Linked DNA regions of Homo sapiens: region 1 is linked to region 2. Evidence: fine-mapped expression QTL. Tissue or cell type: whole blood. Region 2 holds a variant in brackets; the other region holds the start of a gene. All regions are shown on one strand. Distances are from middle to middle.

Evidence for each region. PIP is the estimated chance that this variant, and not a neighbour inherited with it, causes the effect.
Region 1: GLIPR1 starts here. The variant in region 2 is fine-mapped to the expression of GLIPR1 in whole blood (INTERVAL, PIP 0.99).

Annotation. Positions count from the first base shown.
Region 1 is chr12:75,476,320-75,484,429 of GRCh38, forward strand. It overlaps GLIPR1 (GLI pathogenesis related 1), which reads left to right and starts at 4,436. Exons shown (of 6, transcript NM_006851.3): 1 at 4,436-4,735; 2 at 5,515-5,760. The coding sequence starts at 4,562. GLIPR1-AS1 (GLIPR1 antisense RNA 1) reads right to left here. Exons shown (of 2, transcript XR_007063373.1): 2 at 7,135-8,110. RefSeq lists an enhancer at 6,704-6,753.
Region 2 is chr12:76,413,446-76,421,555 of GRCh38, forward strand. The region is part of intron 4 of OSBPL8 (oxysterol binding protein like 8); the gene reads right to left. Among named protein-coding and RNA genes, the nearest start is that of BBS10, 69 kb to the left of the region's middle. The variant C/CT (reference allele first, on the strand shown) is at 4,565.

The DNA.
Region 1 (8,110 bases), 940 kb before region 2:
TATGGGAGCTACAATTCAAGATGAGATTTGTGTGGTGACACAGCCAAACCCTATCAGTATGGAATGCACTTATGCATACCTAGAGTAATAAAGGAAAAGAAATAATAATAATAGCTGGTATATATAGTACTTACCCTGTGTCAGGCACTACCTAATCTGTTTTTAGAAATAACTTCTTATTTAAATTTGTTTGTCAATCCAATGAAGGAGGTAATATTATCATTCCTATTTTACAGATAAGGAAACTAAAGGACAGAAAGACAAAATGCCCATTCATACACCTAGTACAGGGTATTTGATTTGAACCCAGACAGTCTAATGAACTTGTGCTCTTAACAACTACAGACAAGATTTGCAATGAGACCTTAAGTTAACATCTTACTAGTGTCATTCCCCTGGTCCAGTTATTTATCCTCTTTATGTCCCAATATTTTCATCTGTAAATAGGAATAATTTTGTGTATACACATACATATATATACACACATATATATGTCACAAGATTATTATGAGAGCATAGTGAGATAATGAATTTGAAAAGGTTTGGTGCTTGTCATCACTGCTGCCAACTGACCTAAGCTAACATGGCCTCAAATGTCAGGTTCCTTTGATAAATATTGAAGCCTCTTGCAGTTAGAGCTGAGTTATGCAAAGGCTATGTTCCCCTCCCTTACAAACCCAGTACCTGATAGTATGCTATTATGAAAGTAAGTCTTGGACAAATTTTGCTAAATGTCTTAACATTCATTAGCAAACAATTACAGAAACATTCCTGCTTTCTACTCTTAGACGCTCCAATGGTAAGCTCACTAAACAGACATTCTAAAGTTAAGACTAGCAGCCTTGAAGTCAAGGCAGAAAACGGGGACCTCTTGTGAGGTGGCAATTCCCTTGAACACTACACCAGCAGTAATAGAGATCTGAGGATGTCTGCTTCTTTATACTTCATTCATGCAATAGCAGGAGGCTGTGTTCAATCTCCCCACAAGCCATTCACCATGAAAATTACTCATTTTGCCAGTGAAAATGATTCTCTAACATGCCCTGTTCTAATTAACAAACTCTCAGGTATCAATTTCCATAACCATATCTGAAGTGTTAACCATCACCTTTGGAGTGTGGATTCTTGGTTAGAGTACTTCAGCACTAATTAACTGCTTCTAGAATATGGACTACAGTTAACTTGTACATTGTCACATACGTAAAACTAATTTATACCAAATTAAAGTATCATCACACAACAATGTAACAGTGACATGTTTGCTTAATAAATATAGCCCCTCCCTCTTTCTGAATCCTTTATCTTTGTCTATCCCCACACCCAACACATAGCCCCAGTAGAATAGGTGGCTAGAGGTTTTGGAGCCTAAATGTTTTTGGAATCTAATCAGGAAGTGTGGGATTATAGAAAATTCTATATCATTTCTCCCCAAGAAATAAAAAAGCTCATCATATATATAAATTGATATATTTAGAACAGTATAGCAAGGTTGAGATTTTTCCACATAATATAAATGATTATCTCTAGCTACACAAACTGTTGCTTTTTATAAGACACTTGAGTAAAGCTTGCGGGGATAGAGAGACATAGTCCATTATGCAGTATTACCCACAATACTGAAATTGTGGATATTCCTTTAGTCTTTTATCTATGCATGGGTTTATCAGGCAATGTATATGTATGAATTTGTGCATGATTTTAAAGATCCCATGACTCTCCAAAATAATTGCAGTTTATTTTATTACTATGAAAGATAGCATGTTCTTGCTGTAAAAAAATTAAACGATACAGAGAAGAATTAAAAAGAAAGTTAAAAATCTTTTAAAATGCTACCATGAGTGATGAGCACTAAAAACCAATCTCTCTGTCTTAACACACGTGCATAATTATCAAAGAGATCATGGTGAAGACTTGGGTTAAGAAGTGGAAAAAGTCATAGCAAAGTTCAAAGCCTTCTAAGCAGTGCAGGCTTACATTTGCTTCCAAGTAAAAGTTCCTGTTCTGTGGCAAACCACTTCTCTGGACTTTTGGTGCAAACGTGTAGTGTGAATTGAAAAGTTTTAGAGTTGTAGCTCTAAGGAGCTAACCTGGTCTGCACAATAACACAAAAATCATCTCTGTGACGGCAGACTTTCCCTTTTGCTGATTATTTTCAGGAAAGTAGAGAAAAAATATTAAATCATTTCAAGACCAAGATAACATTGCTCATTCTTGGGAGTTGTATGTGTATAACAGGGATTACGCAAGCAACCAAAAAAACCACTGATTTTGCTTGCTCGTGGGGTTTCCTCTTTCTTGTTGTTGTATTCAAAACTCAGTCTAGCTCACAGAGACCCAGAAGAAGATGAGAAGCAGGCCTTAGACATGGTTACCACTTCAAACTGGAGAAAGGTCTCTTTGTTTATTGTCACTACATTGATCAAAAAGTTGCCTATGAGACCTGGATAAGACACTGCTTATCTCAGATTCCTATAATGTAAAGACATGCTAGTAGAAATTAGGCAGCCTGGACAAAATTTGAATTTATGTATGAGTATTTTTAAGGTTATTTGTGTGTGTGTGGCAATAGTAATTCTGCCTTATGGTTCTGTAATGGTTTTTGTTTGTTTGGTTGGTTGGTTGGGCTTTTTTGAGATGGAGTTTCACTCTTGTTGCCTAGGCTAGAGTGCAATGACAATCTCAGTTTACTGCAACTCCGCCTCCCAGGTTCAAGCAATTCTCCTGCCTCAGCCTCGCAAGTAGCTGGGATTACAGGCATGTGCCACCATGCCAGGCTAATTTTGGTATTTCTAGTAGAGACAGGGTTTCACCATGTTGGTCAGGCTGGCCTTGCACAACTGACCTCAGATGATCCGCCCTCCTCAGCCTCCCAAAGTGCTGGGATTACAGGCGTGAGCCACCGCGCCTGGCCCGTATGTTTGTTTTTAATGATGGGGCCTCGCTCTGTCACCCAGGCTGGATTGCAGTGACCTGACTATAGCTCTTCACAGCCTCAAATTGTGGGGATCAAGCTATCCTCCCACCTCAACTTTCTGAGTAGGTGGGGCTACAGGTGTGCCTGGAATGTTTCTTTACTTTTTGTTTGCATTAGAAATATTTCCCCACCTCATTCCATTTTCCATCTCTCTTAATTTTCTAAAATACACGTGTTTTCTAAAACCAGGTCTAAACCCCACCTACAGCTAAAATCCTCCAATAACTTCCCATGACTTTGGTGATAAAATAAAAAATCATTAGCAGAATTGAGAAATCCTTCCTGATCTGACTCTTAACTTCTCTCCCCCAAGTGGCATGAAAGCATCATTTGGATTCTGAATTCCATGACACCAGGTATCAAGTTTTCTACCAGTCAGAATCACTACTTATTTACAGACCATATTTACAGAGGGAGACAATATGGAGAGGTTCTTGCTCTATTCTTGCCATAACACCATGTCTTCAATTTCACAACTAGATATATAGTTCCTATCCCTCTAATTCCCTTCTCCTCTCCAGCGCTTTTTCACTTGATCAACACCTAGCTGATTCTAGCCTCAGCAAAGACCTCACCTGCTGTATGTAGGCCGGCTCTGCCGTTTCCAGAATGGGTTAAGTATGCTCTCTTGTGTGTCCATATCTACCTGTGCTTTCCTATATCCAGATCTCCAACAGCCCCTGTTGTAACATCCTTGTCATCACCATCTCACAGCTCTTACCACTGTAAGCTCCTTGGGGCCAGTGACTGTGTTTTTATTTCTGTATTACTAAGGTGAATATACAAGGCAGGAATTTAATATTAGCTAGTTCATTTGATCCTGCCAAACCTCTGTAATTAAGGAAGCAGAAAAGGTCCCATAGTCTCATTCAATAGGTGGCTGAGGTTTAGAGAGTTTTGTATCCTGTCCAAGGTCTTACAGCTAGTTAGAAACAGAAACTAAATTCTCAACTTGAGTCCTGTATTCTTTCTACTATTCTCCCTCTCAATCCCTCTCTCTCTTTCTCTCTCTCTCTCTTTCTCTCCCTCTCTCTCTCTCACACACACACACACACACACACATACACGCTTACATGTTTCTACCATCGTGAATGAATTCTAGGTCAAGTTTATGATGTTAACCAGATATTCCAACCACTATGTGTTGATATGACTCTAAAAAGAAAAAGATTTCTGAAAGCATTTTGCGAGGCATTTATAGAAGTAAGAGATATTTTCATTTTATCACCGCAACCTCCATTAAAAATTGGAGACTATTATTCCTGGAGACTTCAGAATTTTCTTTGGAAATATCTCCCAATTCAAAAGGAAGTCTGACACAGCCTCATAAAAATCTATGTCGTAATAGGTGCTGTGTCACTGAAAACCACTGAAAAGACAGGGTTAAGAACACAAAGTGAGCTGCACACCATATATGGAGAAACCCGTTTCTTAAAACTAGTGATGAACTCATGCTCTGTTCTGTTTTCTCAAAGCTGAAGTCGGCTAGGTTTGCAAAGCTGTGGGCTGAGCACTCAGGCAATCACACTCTCAGAAACTGCGGCGGCTCTGGACTGCAGCCTCCCAAGGCTCCATGCCAGACAAAGCATGCGTGTCACACTTGCTACAATAGCCTGGATGGTTTCTTTTGTCTCCAATTATTCACACACAGCAAATATTTTGCCAGATATCGAAAATGAAGATTTCATCAAAGACTGCGTTCGAATCCATAACAAGTTCCGATCAGAGGTGAAACCAACAGCCAGTGATATGCTATACATGGTAAGGAAAATATCATTAATTGTGGCGTCAGTCAGTCAGAAACAACTAATGTGTATTGACTTTGGTGTTAATACCTTCGTAATACTGAATGATTTTTTTTTCATTGTGATTAATGTATGCAGTAAATTCACAGTCTGTGATCAAAACACATCCAGTTTAGCTCTGTCTACCCAACTGTTGTTATAAGCAAGTGCCACAGCACATTTTACTTCTCTTTGGACACTTCCTGTTTTCTGGTTTTCAGTGGATTTTACTTCTCTTTTTGTTATCTTCCTCCCTGTTAATTTTTGTGATTTGGTTTTCTTTTTTTTTTTTTTTTTTTGTCTCTAAATTTACTTTTTTTGCTGCTGACAAAGTACTGAGTTGCTCAGGTAGGCAGAATGGCATCTGGGGAAAGGATGGGATTTTGATTCAGTAAGGCTTGGGATTGAATTTCAGATCTGTGGCTTTAAGCTGGTTTTTAACCTTTCTGAACTTCTTAGGATATGGGCTGTTGTGGTTATGGAATAATGTTGTGAAACACGGCACACACTATTTTGCCCACAATTAGCCTTCAGTGAAATGTCAGTTTTCCTCACTTAGATTCTAAATTCCATGAAACTAAATTGTCACGTTTCCTACCAGCCCTACTCAGTGCTTGAAGACCATATTTATAGAGGACTCATATGCAGTGGTATCTTCTCTCCTTATCTCACCTCGTTTTCCATTCAAATTCCCACTGTACTCACCCCAGTTACATTTCAGATGAACCCCCTATTGTTTAATGTTTATTTTTGCAGACTTGGGACCCAGCACTAGCCCAAATTGCAAAAGCATGGGCCAGCAATTGCCAGTTTTCACATAATACACGGCTGAAGCCACCCCACAAGCTGCACCCAAACTTCACTTCACTGGGAGAGAACATCTGGACTGGGTCTGTGCCCATTTTTTCTGTGTCTTCCGCCATCACAAACTGGTATGACGAAATCCAGGACTATGACTTCAAGACTCGGATATGCAAAAAAGTCTGTGGCCACTACACTCAGGTAAGGATCTGCCCTATATTATCTTGAAACTGTCTTTTCAAGTATGAGGAGAAAAATTGTACTATGAAGTTAAGAAAATGTATAGTATGCTAGTATACCTGTAAATATAAGGGAGTTAAATAGAACAGCCTCCAAGAACAGAAAATAATGCTTGAAAAGTTTAGTTGTGTGAACTAAACACATAATAGGTAATATGTGAGGCCCACCAACTTGGACAGGCTTTGAACAATTCCTGTAACAGCTATTCTCCCATAGGACTTTATTCCATTTGTGAGAAATCAAAGAACCTTATGAGTGAAAGGATTTTCAGGTTCCAGCTGTAGCATGAGTTTTAAATGAAATTTGAGCCAATTGTTTTGGGACTATAAAATTGGAAGAAACAAGACTCTCAGACAGAAACATCAATAAGAACTGATGCTTCCACAACCTCTCATTCTCTCAAACATCGACTGAAAACCTACTGTGTGCCATGCACTAGGCACCACGCACGGTGCTACACAAGGAGGGAGAAAAAGTCAGTCCCAGGCCAACAGAGAGGCCAACGTGTAAACTTATATGAACCATTCTGAGGGTATTCTGCCCCCAGAATCCATATTATTAGTCCCAATAGCCACATTCAGAGCCACCCATTGAGTTTTTTTTTTTTTTTTTAATTTTTACTCAAGCTGATTCTGGCTCCCTAACCCTACCTCACATTTGCAGCATGATGGAAACAACTCTCTAGGGAGCATCTGTCATAATTGTCTTCAGACGCTGCCTTCCTGTCCTGGCTACATTTTGTTTATTTACTGTCACTTCCTGGCCATCCTTGTCAAACCAATAACGTACGGTACTTAACCTATAATTGACTGTTTTGGGGCACAAAAAATCAGTTGAAATGAGGTATGAAGGCAAAAACGTTTCTATCAAGGCAGTTACATTGAAACATTAGGTGGTTTTAAGGAACAACATGGTGTAAGAAAACCTCCCTTACTCCAGCTCAGCCTTACAAAGCCTGTGATCTCATTCGTGGTGCTACAGATGAACCAAGTTTGGTGCAGTTACAAAAAATTATTATAAGAGTAAAATGAATTTCTCCTAAATTTACTTCATAAACTAACAATTTTGGTTTACATTTACAAATAAATTTAACCAGGAAATAAGTTTCCTTGGATTCCAACAAGACCTAGGGGAGTAGAAAGCTAAATCTAGATAGCCTACAAGTGGTACTTGTACTGTTATGCATTGCGGTATTTAAATACTCAGAAATAATTGTCAGTTTGAGGGTGCCTACTTTCATTTATTTATTAGTCAGTGTTTAAGCTTTTACCCTATAACAGGCACTAGTGATATGTCTTAGTCCAGATTCTTGGAAAACAGAGCCTGAGACAATAGTTTATGAGCTAACATTTTATTGGGATACAATCTTGGAGAAGCGGAAGTGAGGAGAAATAGGGAATGAGCCAGGGAAGGAGGAGAAATACAGCTGGAAATGGTCCCTGGCCCTCAGAAATTGACCTTTTGGGAGAGACTTATGTGTAAATGGATTATGACAGTGTTTGGCTAGTACAATTTAGAGAAGCTGACAAAGTGCCATGTGAGCAAGGAGGACAGAATGAGCAACTTATCCGGCCAAAAGGAAGTGTAAAGCTTCACACTGCTGGAGACATGTGAATTGGTACTTGAAAACTGAGTGGGAATTTTTCAGATGAAAAGGAAAGGGAAGAGAATTCTCAGCAAGGTGTGGAAAGTATACAATGTGTATGAATGGGCCTGGTACTTTAGATCAATGGCAAGAAGCTCAGCATGCCAAATATATAGAGGTCAAAAGACTGTAAAATTGACAACAGACTCCTAAACCATGCTCAATACACAAGTTAAGACACTCCATGTTCACCATTCCAGGAAATCGAAAGAAGAGAACATTTGAGTTTATGCCATAAATGCCTGAGATTTCACAGATGGCCCTCCCAAAATTAACTGAGCTTACTTGTAAAATTTCCCCTTACATCTAAGGGAAAAAAGGAGGACTAATATTTTGGTCATGAGAAAATTCATTTTCTAAAACCCAGTCCCATACATACAGATATTAAAACCCAAGCTCAGTGATCCTAACATGAGTGATCCTCTTTAAGAAACCACTACATTCTACCCCCACTTCAGAAGAGGGGCACTCATCACGGGGAGAATGTCCAAGAACCCCCTGGGCTGGGAAGATAGAGCAGCAGCAATCACTTTTTAAATGGGCATAGTGTTTAGCTCTCTACACTGAAGACCTCATTCAATTATTACCACAAATCTATTAAGGAGATGTTAATGGTATTACCCACAGGTGAATAAACAGACTTAGAGAGGTTAATAAGTTGTTCCC
Region 2 (8,110 bases):
AACAATAGTGCTATGAATATTCTTGGAAATGTATCGTGGTAGACACCTCTAAGTTTCTCTAAGGTTTAAATCTAGAAGGAGGAATCCTGGGTCACAGAGCATGTGTAACTTAAACTTTATACCAAACTATGCAAAAGTTCTCTTTTCTCCATAACCGTAGTAACTTCAGTATTGAAAAACTCTTAATATTTTTGGCAGTCTGGTGGATGCACAGTAGTTTGTCAGTGAAGTTTTAGTTTGCGTGTCCCTGATTACTAATGGTGTTGAGAACTTTCTCATGTTAATTGGCTAATTTCCTCTTTGTGAAGAATGTCTTCAGACCTTTTGTACATTAAAAAAAAAATCGTCTATCTTTTCTTATTATATAAGAATTCTTGATATAGTCTAGATACTAGTCCTTTGCCAAATGTATTTGTTGTCAACATCTCCTTATTCTGTGGCTTTTTACAGGCTATGTGGTTTCTTTTGGTGAAGAGCTTTTAATTTTCATGTAGTCAAATTTAGCAATCTCTTTCTTTAAAGGTTAATGCTTTGGGGTCTTAAACTCTTCCCTAAATCTGCAGTCATAAAAATATTTTCCAATAATGTAGTTTTACTTTTTGCATCTACATCTACAATCCACCTGGAATTGACATTTGAGTACAGTGTGATATACGGGTACAATTTCACTTTCTTTGCATTTAGACACCAACTGACCTGCCACCATTTATCGAAAAGAACTTCTTTTATCCATATGTGTCAAATGTTCACAAATGTGTAGGTCTGTTTCTGCACACCCTATCTGTTCTATTCATCTAGCACTTAAAGTACAGTATTGCCTAGAAATGGTGAATGCATTCTTGTTTCTAATCTCAAAACTGTCAATATTTAACCATTAAGTACAATGTTTAATGTAGATTTTTGATATATTTTTATATGTGTATTTATATATATATTTGGATATAGATATTGATATTGGTACATATATTAATATATATATTTAAGGAACAGGGTTTATTTTTCTGGTTTTTTTTTTTTTTTTTTTTGAGACAGGGTCTTGCTCTGTTGCCTAGGCTGGAGTGCAGTGGTGTGATCTCAGCTCACTGCAGCCTCGACCTCCTGTAACAGGCAATCCTTCAACCACAGCCTCCTGAGTAGCTGAGACAAGAGACACATGTCACTAGGCCTGACTTTTTTGTTGTTGTTGTTGTTGAGATGAGGTCTCATCATGTTGCCCAGGCTGGTCTTCAAATCCTGGGCTCAAGCAATCCTCCCACCTCAACCTCCCAAAGTGCTGGAATTACAGGTATAAGCCACCATGTCCAGCTGGAACAGGTACTGATACAGATATTTAAGGAAGTTCACTCCTTCTAGTTTTCTAAGAGTTAACAAAACGAAATTTGGATTTCATCAAAACTTTTCCCACATCTATTAAGATAATCATATTATTTTTTCTGCTTTTAATCTGTTAGTGTAGTGAACCACATTTATTTCTAATGTTAAGTCAATCCTGCTTTCTTAGATTTTCATCCAACTTAGTCATAACGCATTGTCCTCTTTATAAAAAGATATTGCTACTACCATTAAGGAGTGTTGTAATCCATATTCATTACTGATTGGAAAAATTATAGGACAATCTCTTTCAGTTGAATTTCATGTCAAAGTTATACTAATACTAGTGTTCTTCTCACTCTCCACTTCCATCCTCTGAAAGCAGTTGTGCAAGACTAGAATTATTCTTTCATTTAACGGTTGGTAGAACTCGGTATCTACCTGAATCCGGAGCTTTCTAGTTTAATTTCTGTTTTTCTTTTTTTTTTCTTTCCTTTTTTTTTTTTGAGATGGAGTCTCGCTCTGTCACCCAGGCTGCTGGAGTGCAGTGGCACGATCTCGGCTCACTGCAACCTCTGCCTCCCGGGTTCAAGCGATTCTCCTGCCTCAGCCTCCTGAGTAGCTGGGATTACAGGTGCATGCCACCAGGCCCAGCTAATTTTTGTATTTTTAGTAAAGACGGGGTTTCACCATGTTGGCCAGGCCGGTCTCGAACTCCTGACCTCAAGTGATCCACCCGCCTTGGCCTCCTAAAGTCCTGAGATTACTGGCATGAGCCACCATGCCCATGCCCAGCCTCTGATTTAATTTCTTAATGGTTATTAGGACTATTCAGATATTCCGTTTCTTTTAAGAACAATTTCAGTAAACTATATTTACTAAGAATTTATTTCATTTGAACTTTTGAGTACATCAGCATACAAAAGTTCACAATATTCTCTTACATGTTTAATACATGGCTCCAACTATAGTTATATCTCTTTATTTTTGATACTGGCTAATTGTATCAGAGTTAAGGTTTTAAAAAAACACCTTTTGTCTACTGATTTGCAGTAACACTCTTTTTCATAATAAATCATACCACAGGTTTGTCTATCAGTCTTTTTCCAAGAATTTTAGGCTTTACTGAAACTCTCTAGTGTGTGTATTTTCTGTTCCATTAATTCTTAGTCTTACATTTATTATAGTCTTTTTTTCTTTTTGGAGATTTTGCTCTTATTTTTTGAACTTAAGAAAGATACTTAGCTCATTAATTTTTCTTCTCCCTTCTGTTTCTAAAATATGCACTTAAGGCTAAACATTTCCTCTTAATCACGATTTTAAAGCTATATTCCACAAATTTCGATATGTAATGCTTTCATAATTGTTCAAGTCAGTTATTTTTCCAATTCCTATTTTGATTTCTTCTTTGATCCATGAGGCATTTAGAAATATATTTTTGAATTTTAAACATAACAGAATTTTTATTGAACTTTTTGTTATAGATTTCTAACATAAAAAATAAGGTCAGATAATATGTTCTGAATAATTTTAATAATTTAAAATTTGTTGAAACTTACTTTATGGCACAGCATATGAGCAATTTTTATAAATATACCATATGTATTAGATAAGAAGGTATATTCTATAGTTGTTGGGTATAAAGTTCTATATTTGTCCATTAACACACATTTCTTAGTAGAGAAGTTCTATTTTGATATGTATTTACTGATTTTTGTCCTTTTCTCCCTCAATTACAAAGAGAAGAATATAAGTACAGATTTATCTAGTTTCCATGTTGTTCTCTATAAAATTTCCTTATATATTTTGAGGGCATATAATGTACTCATGCTTTTTGCCTCAAAATTTATTCTGTCTGGTATCAATAGATACAGGAACTTTCTTTTCAGTAGTGTTTGCATTGCTTTTTATCCCTAGTCCTTCCCTACCCCAACTTTTCTTTATTCTTTTATATGTAGATATGTCACTTGTAACAGCAGGTACTGGATTATTTTTAATACTAATCTTTAGATCATTAGTACTCAATATAATTGCTGACTTACCTAGATTTATATTTATCTTATTTTGGACTTTCTATTTGTTCCTCCCATACTCTATTGTCCTCTACTATCTTGTCTTCTATTTATTATAAACTAGTTAAGATTTAAAAACATAAATTAATCATTGTGTTTAGTGGTTACACTCAGAAATTAAAATATGTATACTTAACTTTTCAAAGTTTAAAATTAATTATTAATTTACTCTCCTTCTGGGAAATACAAAGGCCTTGGAAGAACTTATTTACCTCCCTTCCAGCTTATACACAATAACTGTCATATATTGCAAATCTCTCTCTCTTCTTAACTCCAAAAGACATTATTTGTATTGGCTTTAGAATCAGTGTGCATTAAATTTGCCCATATAGCCCTTGCTATTTGTTTATCCTTACAACTTAAGACTTTCCATCTGAAATCACTCTCCTTTTGCCTGAAGTACACCTGTAGCTTCTACTGTTTCAGTGAAGAAGTCAAACAGGTGTGAGTTTAACTGTTGTTATTCTTGTGAAGGAAATCTGGGTGTTTTCACCCTCTGTCTTTGATGGTCTGTAGTTTCACTATGATGTGTTTAGGTTTAAGTTTCTTTTTAATTTGTTTTCTTGAGAATTTGTGGTTAGTATCTTTGATCAGTTCAATTATAGCCATTATACTTAAAGACTTTTTATCCTATTTTGTCTATTTCTTTTATTTATGACCAAAAAAAGACAGCTTTTTCCCTTTTATTCTGCATGCCTCAACTTCTTTATTTTTCATCTTTTCCCTCCCTGCTGTATCCTGAATAATTCTTCTGACTTACTTTCCTCTTCACTAATTCTATCTTCATCTGTATGTCCAATGTACTACTAGTATGTACACCGAGTTTTAAATTTTGGTTATGTTTAATTTCATTTCTAAAATTTATATCCTAATATTTCACAAATCTACAGGCTATTTTAAATAATTCCATTTTGAAAGTTTGCATTTATGTTTTTAAAAACCGTAAACAGAGCTTTAAAAACATTAGTTTGTATCGGATCACTCTAATATCCAAGAAGCCTTACCAGCCTCTTTCTACTGTTTGTTGTTTCAGTTACTTCTCATTCATGTCATATTTTCTTATGTATCTGGCCATCTCTGACTTGTGTACTAATTGCTGACTTTGAAAAAATTATTTGTAATAATAATTAGAGACCTGGAATGAAAACCCTCTCTCCAGAAAATTATATGATTTTCACTAC[C/CT]TTTTTTTTTTTTTTTTTTTTTTGAGATGGAGTTTCATTCTTATTGCCCAGGCTGCTGTGCAATGGCACAATCTCAGCTCACCACAACCTCCGCCTCCCGGGTTCAAGCAATTAGCCTCCCGAGTAGCTGGGATTATAGGCACACACCACCACGTCCAGCTCATTTTGTATTTTTAGTAGAGATGGGGTTTCTCCATGTTGGTCAGGCTGGTCTTGAACTCTCGACTTCAGGTGATCTGCCCACCTCGGCTTCCCAATGTGCTGGGATTACAGGTGTGAGCCACTGTGCCAGGCCGATTTTCACTACTTTCTTAACAGCCTTTCTCCAAAGTATTCTGTCTCTTGTTTAACTTACATAAAGTAATAAGAGTATCTCTGGGGTACTTTATTGAAGCCAAATTCCTTCCAAATGGTCATTAAGTAGCTAAGTGAGGATTAGAAACCAGGTAGTCTTGCTCCATTTTCACTCTGCAACATACATCCAGGCTGACTTCCACATTTTCTAAGGTTATAGAACCTATAACAACAGCACATATTCAGGTCAGATGAGGTGGCTCATGCCTGTAATCTCAGCGCTTCGGGAGGCTGAAGTGGGCAGATCACTTGAAGTCAGGAGTTCGAGACCAGCCTGGCCAACATGGTGAAACCCCCATCTCTACTAAAAATACAAAAATTAGCCGGGTGTGGTAGCACATGCCTGTAATCCCAGCTACTTGGGAGGCTGAGGTGAGAGGATCACTTGAACCCCAGGAGGCGGAGGTTGCTGTGAGCCAAGATGGTGCCTCTGTGCTCCAGCCTGGGCGACAGAGTGAGACTCCATCTCAAAACAAAAACAAACAAAAAAGCAGATATTCAGAATGATTACTATTTAGATTGACAGATGGCAATCCTTTCAATCAATTAAGAAATAATAATGGATTCACCTCTTATAAATATAAATATTAGGCTGGGCATGATGGCTCATGCCTATAATCCCAGAACTTTGGGAGGCTGAGGCAGGCAGATCACTTGAGGCCAGGAATTTGAGACCAACCTGGCTAACATGGTGAAACCCTGTCTCTACTAAAAATACAAAAATTAGCTGGGCGTGGTGATACATGCCTGTAGTCTCAGCTAGTTGGGAGGTGGAAGCAGGTGAATCCCTTGAACCTAGGAGGCAGAGGCTGCAGTGCGCCGAGATCACACCACTGCACTCCAGCCTGGGAGACAGAGCGAGACTCCATCTCAAAACAAAAACAAGAACAAAAACAAAGTGCATATATATAGTATAAATATTTATAGTGTACCTACCTGTTACATAACACATTGCATTTAGGGATAAAAACATGAAAAGACATTGTTCCCTATCATTCCTTTCTTTTAAAAAGGCTACTGTCTAAAGAGAAGCCAGGTATTCAAACAAAAATTATAATACAGTAAAATAACTGCTTATAATAAAGGCAGAGGGATACCTGCGAATAAGCTATGGGGTCAGACTATCTATCAACCCTGGCGCCACCATTTACTAGCTGTATGACATTGGGCACAATACTTAACTTCCAATGGTTCAGTTTCTCCAATGGGGAAAGGCTTGAAAGTGATAAAGTACTTAAGACTGAAGCAAGACAGTGCTATAATATTCTCTTCATATAAAAAGAAAAAAACATAGTAATGAGTTTCAGAAATGTTTTTAGCCATCAAAGCAAATAAAAAAGAATTTCCTAAAGCTCAACCCCAAAACAAAAACTAATGACATTCAAACCTGGTTGAAAAAAGTCTGTCATATCTTTCTTCTAATCTTTTGGTTTTGGAAGTAGTCACAGACTCATAATAATTCCAGTGAATATAATAACTCTTCCATCAAGTAATTATATAACCATGGTAAGTTCCTTAAATTCCAGAGACTTCAGTTTCCCATCTACAGTAAATTTTACATTAGACAATCTCTAGTGTAAGTACATAGGTTTACTTTTTCCTGCTAATGCAATGGAATATTATCGCTGAATAAATTAGCATTCTGCCCTTAACCTCTAATTTGTCCACAAAATGCAAGTACTATCATCACTGATAAGGCGTTATCTTTTTGATATACCTGGTTCATTAATACTGTGATATAATAAAGCAAATTTTATGTTGCGTCAGTCTTATTAAAATGAAATTACATAAACAAATCTACAAATAAAGATTTTATAAGTATCTACAAAATAAATACAGAATTGCTACATTAACTATATTGAATACAGCCAAGAGCCAAGAAAAAAATCTGAGAAGTCAAAATATACAAAACAACTATGTACTAAAATGTACAATCTATAGATGTCTATAGATGCTTTCTTTGTTCAAAGTTTATTTACTCCAATTTGTACGTACTGTTCTAGAGATTAGTAAAACAAGCATACCTAAAAGTAACAGCTGAGATCAAGAGATAGATAATCAGATATGAACTAAATAAAACAAACACATTGCATCATGACATCACTATGGGTACAGGGGCAGGGGTGTCACATCCATGTTATAGCTAATCATAAAGAAAAAGGTTATGCTGACGTATTTATTAAGGCAGAAGTGGCTAAAAGAAAAAAATATTTTTTTCAGGAAAATTAAAATTAAAAAAGGGTTATGCTCAAAGCAGTAAGAAAAAGTTATCTTTAAATATCACTAATGAAGAACAAATCTTTCCTTCTCTAGTTTTGTCAGATAAAAGCAAATGCATCTAAAATAATTTTTTCAATACAACAATGAAGTATATCAGGAGATATTAGATGTACTTTTTACTTTTACCTTAAGTCACAACAAAAAGCCACTTCTTTGAAGTACTTAATTCCATTCTACTTCTTAGTTGATAAAAGCAGATATTTTATAGAGCTTTTTATCACAGCTGGTTGTATTAAGGAGATGATGGAATCATTCCTATGAATATGATTTTCTCTATTTCAAGAATTAGAAAACAAAGCAAACCATTTACTTTTCTATAGAAACAAATCCATCCAAGATGGCTTTTAATATTTCTTTGACAAGATAAACTGACAATTTTGCCTTTAACTGCCTAATTAAATAAGTACCAAACTTAAAAGCTAAGTTTTCTATTGTTCATCAAGGTCACATGATTATTCTGTAAAGCTAAGTGGACTTGTGGCATGAAGGTCAGCAAACAATATATACTAGCAAGCTTGTTGGCCTAAAAAATGCAAACAAAGAGACAGAAACAAATACAGAAATGAAACTCATTTTAAAATAAAAAATATCTAACATTAAAAAAATCTCAGTATTTTGTATTTGCAAAGCCACTTCTGAATGACAAACGACTAAAATTTACACCATTTAAAACATAAGAAAGACGCATGAGAGCAACCATGCTACACTAAGAAGACTTAATATGGATTGAGTGCTATTTAAAGCTTATACTACTTAGGGAGAGTTCAGGACTATGGTTTCCAATTCTTTTGTGAAACACTGTTAGAAAAGAATGAAATCAGTCAATTTATAATTTATTTAATTGCCCAGGTGAACACTTTCTATGAGGCGTTTCACTATCTCAGAAGAACACATATACCACTTATCAACATG